Regions from separate parts of the Homo sapiens genome. Here region 1 is linked to region 2. Evidence: fine-mapped QTL for protein levels in blood plasma. A gene starts in region 2. The other region holds a variant in brackets. All regions are shown on one strand. Distances are between the middles of the regions.

Region 1 (5,365 bases), 72 kb before region 2:
CAGCAGTCTGAATAAGCCTCTGATCCCGCCTGCATGGGCCAGCCCCCTAAGCCATCTGTGCCCTGCAGGCCACACTGGGATCCAATGTCCCACTCTGAACCCCAGATATCAAGCTCCACAGCAGAACAGATTTATAGTAATTCTGAAACTTTTCAAGGGCCGGGCGCGGTGGCTCACGCCTGTAATCCCAGCACTTTGGGAGGCTGAGGCAGGCGGATCATGAAGTCAGGAGTTCGAGACCAGCCTGACCAACATGGTGAAAACTCGTCTCTATTAAAAATACAAAAAAATTAGCCGGGCATGGTGGCTCATGCCTGTAATCCCAGCTACTCAGGCTGAGGCAGGAGAATTGCTTGAACCCGGGAGGTGGAAGTTTCAGTGAGCTGAGATCACACCACTGCATTCCGGCCTGGCGACAGAGCAAGACTCCATCTCAAAAAAAAAAAAAAGAAAGAAAATTTTTCCCAACCGTCACAGTCGGAAACTGAGGAGCCAAACTGGTCTAGCTAGTGTGGCTCCCTTCACCACGCAGGCTCTAGTTCTCCAAACTCAACACAGATCTGGACAGAGGTCGCAGCCCATCCTCCTGGGAGTGTGACTGAACAAGATGATCCCTGATGGTGCTGAGAAGGGGCCTGGCATGGAGAGGAACCTGGTAAGTGCAGTTCTGACGAGCAGGGGCCCAGGCTGGTGAGCAGCTGGGGTTCCCCGTCAGCACCCCTGCTCCTAGCAGCCCAAGGTGGCCTCACAACTGTGCCTGATCCAAGTCCCAGCTGTGTCCCTTCAGCATCCACTGACCTGAGTCTCAGGTCCCTTATGCGTAAAATGGGGACAATACTTCCATGCACTAGGTTGTGAGACTCAAAGGAGAAGTTGCCCTTAGAGCAACTGCAGGGCTGGGCAGCGCCGGCGCCGTCCCATGCTGCATGTGGAAACGCACAAAAACTGATCATCAGCCAAGAAAGGAGTTACTCAGGCTCCTGGCAAGACCTAGGGAGAGCCTGCTTTGGAACCAGCTAAGGATGGGGTGGGAAACAAGACTGAAGTTCCAGCAGAATCGGGGGCGGCCAGCCTGGACCCAAAGGCCCTGGGTGCTTACCCAGGGTGGTGTTCCGGGAGTTCTCCCGCTTTATGTCCCAGAAGAGATCCCGCTGAGCAGGGTCCAGGGTGCCCCATTCTTCCCGGGAGAAATAGAATGGGATGTCTCCCAATGCCACAGGTCCCTGGAATGGGGTGAGAAGACCCGGCTCAGGCCTCCCAGCAGCACTGGCGGGGACAGGATGGGTCAGATGAAAGAGGCCTGATGGGACAGCAAGTCCCATTTTACAAACTCAACAGGGCCAAGTGCCTTAAAGAAGACAAAGGGACTGGTGACTCACATGGACCCCAGAGACAAAGCAGGTGTCCGTCGTCTCTCCGGGACGACCCTCTTTAAGAAGAGCAGGAGGCTGGGCTGAAGGAGAAGAATGGAGCCTTAGAAAGGCCAGCCCAGGCTTGACACCGACGCCTATGGCCTCCCCAGCCTGTGCGCATGCACACACGCCCTGGACTTCACAGAGGGAGCTGTCCTGCCTGTGACCCTTAGGGCAACGCCGGTGACAAAGCTAGGTCCCTGCCCAGCCACTCGACTGTCCACAAGAACGGAGGCTTACTCACCGCTATGGCTGTGCTGCTCCTGGGGAACAGACGGCCGCCTCCGTGCCCCCACCGTCGGGGGAGGCCCCGTGGCCTGGGATCCCCGGCCTGCAGCCTCGGGTTCCGCCTCCTCCGAGGGCACATCCTGTGCAGGAACCACAACATGCTCATCAGCCCGAGACCAGACCGGGGGAGACAGAGTTTACTCCCTGGGAAGGAGACACAGGACATGACCCTCAGGATGCTGGGGTGTGGGAAGGAGACCAATATGGTGCCCCAGGAAAAGTCCGGAGGAGAATGTGATACCAGGTAATGCTGTGTGCCCAAGGATGCTCCCCGATCATTCACGAGGCAAGAACCAGCCCTGAAAGGCCAGAATCACAGCCACTTAGCAAGGGGGTAGCTGGGGACCCTCCTGCCAAAGGCAGAACCCCATCCCCCAGCCACTCATTAGAACCTCCCCAGATGCATCCAATGTGAAGGACCCAACATCCCACAAGGTAGCAGAGGCCCCGGACAGCTCCACCTTCTCGCCCCACTCTGGAGCTGGCTCTATGCACACCCTTGTGTCCCCAGAGCCAGGCCTAGAGCAAAATGCAAATAAACATCAGCAGACCCTGCATGGAGCTAAAACCTCCTGTCTGGAACATTCGCACTTCAGCCCTATTGCTGCCTTCCAAAGCCACAAAAAATAAATCACATTTACTTTGGATCGCATCTTTCAGAAAGGCACCCATGGCACACTGTGCTTGTGTGCCTGCTCCTGGGGGCTCTGTGTCTCCCCTACCCTGTGAGCCTCTGGGAGACTTATCTCTGCAGGTTACCCACTTCTCT[C/T]GAGCTCAGATACCATCCAGGTGCCCCTGGATGTGGAAGGGCCCCTCACCTGTCGCCAGGCTTTCACTGGCTGCTTCTGTAGGTCCTCCACCAAGGCGACAGCCTCCTCACCGCTTCCCGGGTGCTGCTCACGCACCCAGCCCTGGATCTCCCCTGGCAGCACTGTCAGGAACTGCTCCAGCACCAGCAGCTCCAGGATCTGCTCCTTGGTACGCAGCTCGGGCCGCAGCCAGCGGCAGCAGAGCTCCCAGAGCTGGCTGAAGGCCTCATGAGGCCCATGCACATCCCCGTAGCAGAATTGCCGGAAGCGCTGGCGGCAGGCTTCGGAATCCCTGCCATCCTCATGCTGGGCAGATTCCTGTTCCCAGGAGGAATCTTCCACTTTCACAATCAGAAGCCCTTCTCCCTCCCCAGGGGCCTGGTCCTGGGCCTCCAAGGGGGCTGCCATTCCCCTGGCCTGAGGCTCAGGGTTGGTCGGCTTCAACCTGGGCCCCAGAACCTGTACTTTCAGTCTCCCAGAGGGATCCCCTGTGGTAGCTGGGCTGGCATCTGGATGTGTACTCCTGGGGAAAGAGCAAAATGGCAGGACTGAGGAGGAAGGATGTGGAATACACGAGCAAACCCCAGGCTGAAGAGCCATCCAGTCCCCATCCTTTCATGGCCCTGAAGCCTTTTCTAGGCTTTACTGTAATGCCTTGCTCATGTGACTGTCTCTCCTATTAACACAGGCCCACAAGCTCTCATCCCAAAGCCAGAAATCCAAAACCCGGGTGTTTCATAACTCTTTGACAGCAAAACCCAATGTCATTCATTTGGCAGCACCACCTGACCTGATATAAGCATATTTATAATCTCAATTTATTCCACTAAATGTAAATGTTCAAAATTATGGTGGAAATATTAATAACATATATCTTCAGTTTATAAAATTTCATTGAGCTATACCCACTCGTGTGTTTTTCTGTATTGCACATTATACATCAATTAAATATCTTTTTTTTTTTTTTTTACTGAGAGAGAGTCTCACTCTGTCGCCCAGGCTGGAGTGCAGTGGCGCAATCTCAGTTCACTGCAACCTCTGCCTGCCAGGTTCAAGCGATTCTCCTGCTTCAGCCTCCCAAGTAGCTGGGACTACAGGCACCAGCTACCACGTCCAGCTAATTTTTTGTATTTTTAGTAGAGACGAGGTTTCACCATGTTGGCCAGGATGGTCTCAAACTCCTGACCTTGTGATCCACCCGCCTCGGCCTCCTAAAGTGCTGGGATTACAGGCGTGAGCCACTGCGCCCGGCCTAATTAAAAAATTTTAACTGATATGTTTCATTATTTAGTGTTGCCCCAGATCCCTCTGGAGATGTGCTTGATATATCGTCTGTGCACTATATTATCTTTCTCAAATTTGAAAACCTCTGAATTCCAAAACACATCTGGCCCTGAGGTGTCACAGAAGGGCTTACAGACACCATCCAAAGCCATTTATCCACAGGTACATATAAATGTATGACACATTTATACCTTACATTGTTACTCTCTACTGAAAAGTGTATTATGCAATTTTCAGTAATCGATTTTTTGTTTCAACAATAAAAATACAAACTGGCCGGGCTTGGTGGCTTATGCCTGTAATCCCAGCATTTTGGGAGACAGACACAGGATGATTGCTTGAGGCCAGGGGTTCAAGACCCCTTTGGGAAGACAATGTGAGACGCCATCTGTACCAAAAAACAAAAAAAGCCAGGTGGGGCTCCTGTAGTCCCAGCTACTGGGGAGGCTGAGGAGGAAAGATTGCTTGAGTCCAGGAGTTTGAGGTTGCAATGAGCTATGATCGCACCACTGTACTCCAGCCTGGGCAACAGAGTGAGACCATCTCAAAAAAAAAAAAAAAAGAAAGAAAAGAAAAGTAAAAAGAAAATGAAAAAAATACAAACCATCTTAATAAAAAAGGGAAGATTCAAACAATATAGAAATCTGTAAAACTCTCCCTTCCTCAATACCATTGTACCCCCCGACTTAACAGTCTGACAAATGACGTCCCAGACCTTTTCCTGTGCTTTTACTAAAAAAGTCATCCATAGCGGGGAGAAAAGGTGCTTGATGTGTTTCTACATAAATGAGACCTTACTGCACAGACATTAGCGGCACTATGAGCTTCCGCGGTATGGATATGCTCTAGTTTCTTAATCAATACTCGAGTGATGCATTCGGGTTGTTTCCAATTCTTTAGTCCATCCTAAGCACTTTATTTATTCTGCTCCTCACAAGACCCCTGAAAGGTGCGCGCACCATTCTCATCCTCTGGTGACTTCGAAGAAGACTTTCCTCGAAGAGGGCCAGGACTCACCAGGGTCGCTCAGCAGGACACGGCAGGCGGGAAGGCGAGCCAGCCGGAGCCCCGCGCTGTCCACCGCAGCCTCGCCCGCGGGGCGAGCGGCGATCGTACAGGGGCGTCTGCCGGGGGACCAAGCTGGCAGAGCGGCGCGGGGGACCAGCACTTCCTAGCAGTGCGCGCGCCCTCCGGCCTCTGCCTCGGGGCGCTGATCCCGGCCACTCGGAGCCCGGTGCTTGATGTTGGAGCCAGGCGGCCAGAGGCCCCGTCCCCGCCCCGGCCCCCGCCCCCGCCCCCGCCCCCGAAACACACAACGCCCACTACGGCCCAGGAGATCCCACTTCCGCCGCGAGCTCCCGGCGCCGGAAGTCCTCGCGGGGCTCGCTGGGAAACTACGCTACGCAAGCATTCCCCAGCTCCCAGAAAGCCGTTCGTCCACTGAGCCCGCCTTCTCCATGACCGATGGCCAATGAACAGGAAGAATTCTCAGGCTGCCTATTAGAAGACAGAAACTCCATACGCGTCATACACCTGCACCCGGGAGGAAAGGCGAGGCTCTGCATCTAGATT
Region 2 (5,365 bases):
CCTCCAGCTCTGCCAGGCTCGACATCACCTGTTAGGAACAAAGCACTCGGTTCCAGGCCCAAGCCTCCTCTGCACCCCACATCAGTCAGTCCTCAAGCCCAGTGAGTCCTCAGCTCCCACACACCCCGAACTGGGCCCAGCCAGGGGCCCGGGCCACGTCTGGCACCCCTGTTGTTTCCTCAAGGAGCCCTGGGGCTTGGATGCCTCCCTCAGTCTCCCCGGGCGTCCAGATCCCCCACCCGCCCACTCACTGCCACCCAGGTGCAAGCATTTGCCCACGGTAAGGGGTGAGGGAGCCTGTGGGTCCCTCTTCATCCTTCTCACCCTGAGCCCCACACAGGGTGGAGTGCCTGGGGGCGGGGACATGTGACCTGGTGCCTGAGGGGAAATCCACCCACCTGTCCACGTCCTGATTCTGCATTTTGCATTTTATCATAAAATCTTTCTATGGCCTGGTGCTGTGAAGAGAGGCAGAGTTGGCACCAAAGGGCCGGATCCTTGTCCCTCCAGGGTCCCAGGTGTCCCACAGTGTCCTCAGTGTCACACGCTGAGACCCAGGCCCCCAACCCCTGAGCAGAAGTAGGGAGGAGCATTACCATTCGGGCCTTCAGCTTCTTCATGTCATCAGAGAGGACCTGCGGAAATAACGGTGACACTCAGTCTCCATGTGTCACCTTAACCTTTCCTCCAGGATAATTTATACACACACACACACACACACACACACACACACACACACAGAGACACATGGCAGAGGTACAGGATAAGAGGAGACAGCAGTCCCAGGAGCCCCTCACAGCCTGGAAAGACCGGCCAGGGCTGTCCTCGAAACGACTCAGAAAGCGCTTCTCTCAGGAGCCGGCTCAGCTGGGCAGGCCCAAGAGCAGGGCCAGCATGGGCCTAGGTGACCCCTCCTCACAAGAGCAGGGCCTGCGTGGGCCTAGGTGACCCCTCCTCACAAGAGCAGGGCCTGCGTGGGCCTAGGTGACCCCTCCTCACAAGAGCAGGGCCTGCGTGGGCCTAGGTGACCCCTCCTCACAAGAGCAGGGCCTGCGTGGGCCTAGGTGACCCCTCCTCACAAGAGCAGGGCCTGCGTGGGCCGGGGTGTCCTCCCTGCACACACACACCCCCCCATGTACACACACGGGAGGATGGACACTGTCCTGGAGCAGGCTGGCTCAGCTGGGTTTCCCACAACCACTATGGTCCCAGGTGAGAGTTGGCCAAGGAAAAAATGTTTAGGGACATGACAATTGAGAAGGTAACAGCAGCCATTCCTCTCTGATGAGCTGATTAATATTTGGGGTGCCAGGTAGGTCCACCCTACAACCTGCCACTCTTCCCGACTGCCAACATGCAGACCCACAGGTCCCGGGCCATTCCTGCCTGCAGACACGTGGCTGCATCCACAGAGGCCAGAGGCACCCCACAGAATCCCCGCTGAGCCCCCACGTCAAGGGCCTAGTCTCGGGGGTGACATGCCTGGTTTCCCCCACTATAGAGTGGTGACAGTCACCCACAGAGTGCGCAGGGCCTGGGGACATATTCTGGGCAGGGCAGCTGTCTGCACACTTTCAGGCAGCGATGGTCCCATCCCGCTAGCCTGATTTCCCAGGAACCAGGGTGAAAGCAGCACCGTGCCGACATGCGGGAGCCATGTGTCCTCCGGGTCACTGTCCTGAACCTGAGCCAGGCCACATCATGGAAACCCCTATTGTCACAGGCCGAAGAGCTCCCTGGAGGGTGTGGTGGGCCTAGCATTTGCGGTGGGGCAGTGGTAGAGGATGGGAGGTCGGAGGGAACCCAGGAAAGGAGGAAGAGACACCAGGACCCACACAGGCCTTGCTCTTGGGCCCACCCAGCTGAGCCGGCCTCTGAGAGAAGCATTCTCCGAGTCGTTTCCAGCAGAGCCCTGCCCCACCCCTGCCCCGGGCTTTCCGGGCTGTGAAGGGCTCCTGGGACAGGTGCTCCCTCTCATCCACACCCCTGCCGTTCTCCAGCGCCCCCGACACATATGACCTCCAGCGCCTCCACTGACACTCTCACCCCATCACTATCCTCCTGCCGCTGGGTGCCCCTGACTGAGCCCTGACACACAGGCACCTCGGGAAATACTGAGGGCACCCGCACCCTTACGGTCTGTTTTCAGACATGCCCACAAAAGCACACGCAGCCTCTCACTCACCTTCGGGAAGCACATGGCGGCCAAAAGTTCAAGGAGCCAAGGCCTGCTGGCGAGGAACAGGTGTGAGGAAAAGAAAGTGTCTCAGAGAAGCACCCTCCTCCCCAGAGGGTCCTCACCTTCGGGGACCCCAACTCCCCACCTGAGATGACCCAGCTCCACTGAGACAGTCACCTTCTGCACGCAGTCTTCCTGGCACAAATACTCAGCTGGTTTTATGGGGAAAGTGGGGGGTAGTGGGCGGAGCCTCTCTCAGGGCAGGAGGCCTTGCTGAGTGCGTGAAAAACAGACAGAGACAGAGACAGAGACAGAGACAGACAGAGATGGAGACTTACCCGAGAGAGACAGAGGTCTGGGGTCCCTGGGAGGAATGAGGGTCCGTCCCTGGCTGGGCCCCTGCTCCCTCTGAGCTGGGGTGGGAGTCTCTGAGCCCAGGAATGGGCTGCTTTCCCCACCCCACCAGCCTGAGAGTGGGGAGGGGCAGAGGGAAAGTCCAGACTCGGGACAGCTGGCTGGGGAAACTCCCTGAGTACAGGAAGGTGACGTCAGCCAAGTGGGATCCAAGGACAAAGGAATTTGGACCCTGTCCTTGCATGAGGTGTGCCCCGGCTCCAGAGGCCAGAGAAACTTCTGGATCAGAAGGAGGCAGGAACTGCCGGACCTAAGAGGGGCGCCGTGAGGGCAGGGGCCTGTGCACGTTGGAGGGGTGGCTAGTGGTGATGTAGATCTACCTGTGGGACAAGATAGGACCCTCTGCAGGGTGGAAGGCATCCTGCCGGCTGTCTGAGCTTGGCTGACCAGGTCCTTCTGACCCTTCTGGGCCAAGGCAAGGCCATCTGGGGCCGAAGGTCACTGGTCTCAGCAATCTTGGGGCTCCCCTACGGGCTCTTCTAGCTCCACGGGTTCTGACCCTCCAGCCTGGCTGGGCCTCCCACCTCCTCCTCACGGCCCCCAGCCCCCTTCCCCCAGCTGAGCACAACCACGCCCTTGCCTTTGGGATGGTTTCCTGGGGCCAAACTAAGGAAGTACCACGACAAGGGGCCCTAAGTCGAAGACGTCTCTTCCCTCACGATCTGCAGGCTGGAGGTCCAAGGTCAATGTGGGCAGCGTGGGGTCCTTCTGAGGGCCCGGAGCTGGGATTCTGTTCAGGTTTCTCCTGCCCTTGTAGATGGCCATCTTCATCTTCATCACGTTCTGCCTGGGTGTGACTGTCCCCCTTTCCCCTTTCCAAAGGACACCAGTCATATTGAAATAGGGTCCACCCTAGGCCGGGCGCAGTGGGTCACGCCTGTAATCCCAACACTTTGGGAGGCCGAGGCGGGCAGATCACCTAAGGTCAGGAGTTCTAGACCAGCCTGGCCAACATGGTGAAACCTTGTCTCTACTAAAAATACAAAAATTAGCCTTGCGTGGTGGCCGGCACCTGTATTCCCAGCTACTCGGGAGGCTGAGGCAGGAGAATCACTTGAACCCGGGAGGCGAATGTTGCAGTGAGCTGAGATGGTGCCACTGCACTCCAGTCTGGGGGACAACAATGAAAATTCCCCTCGGAAAAAAAAAAAAAAGAAGTAGGATCCACCCCAGTGACCTCATTGTACCTTAAGTACCTCCATAAAGACCCTGTTTCCAAATAAGGGCATATTCTGAGGTCCTGGGGCTTAGGAATTCAGCATGGATGCAATGTATCCCATTATATTCTCAAAGGGGACTCGGAGAGACAGAACCTATAAAACACGCTCCATGGAGAAATCTTCCCTTGGGTGAAGTAGACAACGGTTGTCACCTGCCTGCCACTTAGGAGTCCATTCCACTGTGCGCAACCGCCTTTCCACATACAGGATGTCCAGATCTTTCCCTGAGTATCCTCTGAATTGTAGTGGGAGACAGAAGGAAGCCACTCCTGCACCAGCTAAAAGTCATGCTTTAGGCTTCAGCTCCAACCCTAGCCCCTCATGACTCTCAAAGGCCACCATCTGAAGACATCTTGGGATCCACCCAGACTGTATGTACCCTGTTTTTATAGCTTTATGGTGATGCAATTTACAGGCAATGCAATTCACTCATTGAGCTGTACAATTCAAAGCACAGAACTGTGCAGCTATCACCACAACCCATTTTAGAACATTTTTATCACCTCTAAGAGAAATTCTGCCCTTCTGAGACATCACTGCCAGTCCTCATTTCCCTGGATAACCACTCATCTACTTTTTCTTTTTCTTTTTTTTTCTTAGAGTCTCGCTCTGTTGTCTAGGCTGAAGGGCAGTGGCACGATCTCGGCTCACTGCAACCTCTGCCTCCTGGGTTCAAGCAATTCTCCTGACTCAGCCTCCCGAGTAGCTGGGATTACAGGCACGTGCCACCACACCCAGCTAATTTTTGTATTTTTAGTAGAGACGGGGTTTCACCATGTTGATGAAGGAGTCTCGAACTCCTGACCTCAAGTGATCTGCCCGCCTTGGCCTCCCAAAGTGCTGGGATTACAGGCATGAGCCACTGTGTCTGGCCTCATCTACTTTCTCTCTCAATGGATGCCTCTCTCCCAGACATTTCCTATAAGTAGAATTATACACTAGGTGATCTTCTGTGTCTAGCTTCTTTCACTGAACATGCTATTCTTGAGGTTCATCCGTGTTGTAACACGCATTATTCCTTCATTCCTTTTTCTGGCTGAATAATATTCTACTGTGTGGATAGACCACATTTGGTTTCTCCATTCACCCCTCGAAGGACATTTGGGTTCTTTCCACTTTTTGGCTAATTCCGAATAATGCTGCTATGAACATTCACGTACAAGTTTCTGTGCAGACGTATGTTTTCACTTCATATGTATGAAGCAGAAGAATAGCTGGGTTACATGGTAAATGTGTTTTTATCCTTTTGAGGAACAGCCAGACTATTTTTCAAAATGTCTGTCATTTTACATTCCCAGCAGCAGTGTGCGAGGGTTCCCGTGTCTCTACAACCTCAGCAATACTTGTTATTCTCTGTGTCTTTTCAATTCCAGCCATCCCAATGGGCTGAAATGGTATCACGTGACAATTTTTTTTTTTTTTTTTTTTGAGGTGGAGTCTTGTTCTGCCACTCAGCCTGGCCTAATTTCTGTATTTTTAGGAGAGATGGGATTTCACCATGTTGGCCAAGGAGTCTCGAACTCCTGACCTCAAGTGATCTGCCCGCCTTGGC

Which allele goes with the higher level. Positions count from the first base shown, and alleles are read on the strand shown. Strength reflects both the effect of a copy and how common the allele is.
In carriers of allele T in region 1, the plasma level of the protein whose gene starts at base 2,372 in region 2 tends to be lower than with C alone (weak association).

What was found. PIP is the chance, under the fine-mapping model, that this variant and not a neighbour inherited with it causes the effect. The UK Biobank Pharma Proteomics Project read protein levels with antibody pairs (Olink). The fine-mapping took linkage between variants from a reference panel, not from the people measured, so its PIPs are less certain.
Region 1: its variant is fine-mapped to the plasma level of the IL32 protein (UK Biobank, PIP above 0.99).

What each region holds. Positions count from the first base shown.
Region 1 is chr16:3,134,833-3,140,197 of GRCh38, reverse strand. ZNF213 (zinc finger protein 213) reads right to left here and starts at 5,169. Exons shown (of 6, transcript NM_004220.3): 1 at 4,811-5,169; 2 at 2,519-3,032; 3 at 1,657-1,780; 4 at 1,380-1,453; 5 at 1,100-1,223. The coding sequence starts at 2,917. ZNF213-AS1 (ZNF213 antisense RNA 1) reads left to right here and starts at 5,316. Exons shown (of 6, transcript NR_110900.1): 1 at 5,316-5,365. RefSeq lists enhancers at 1,234-1,734, 5,219-5,365 and a silencer at 4,879-5,108. The variant C/T (reference allele first, on the strand shown) is at 2,470.
Region 2 is chr16:3,062,647-3,068,011 of GRCh38, reverse strand. IL32 (interleukin 32) reads right to left here and starts at 2,372. Exons shown (of 7, transcript NM_001376923.1): 1 at 2,325-2,372; 2 at 2,186-2,228; 3 at 597-635; 4 at 399-458; 5 at 2-28. The coding sequence starts at 2,200. RefSeq lists enhancers at 1-230, 2,569-2,878.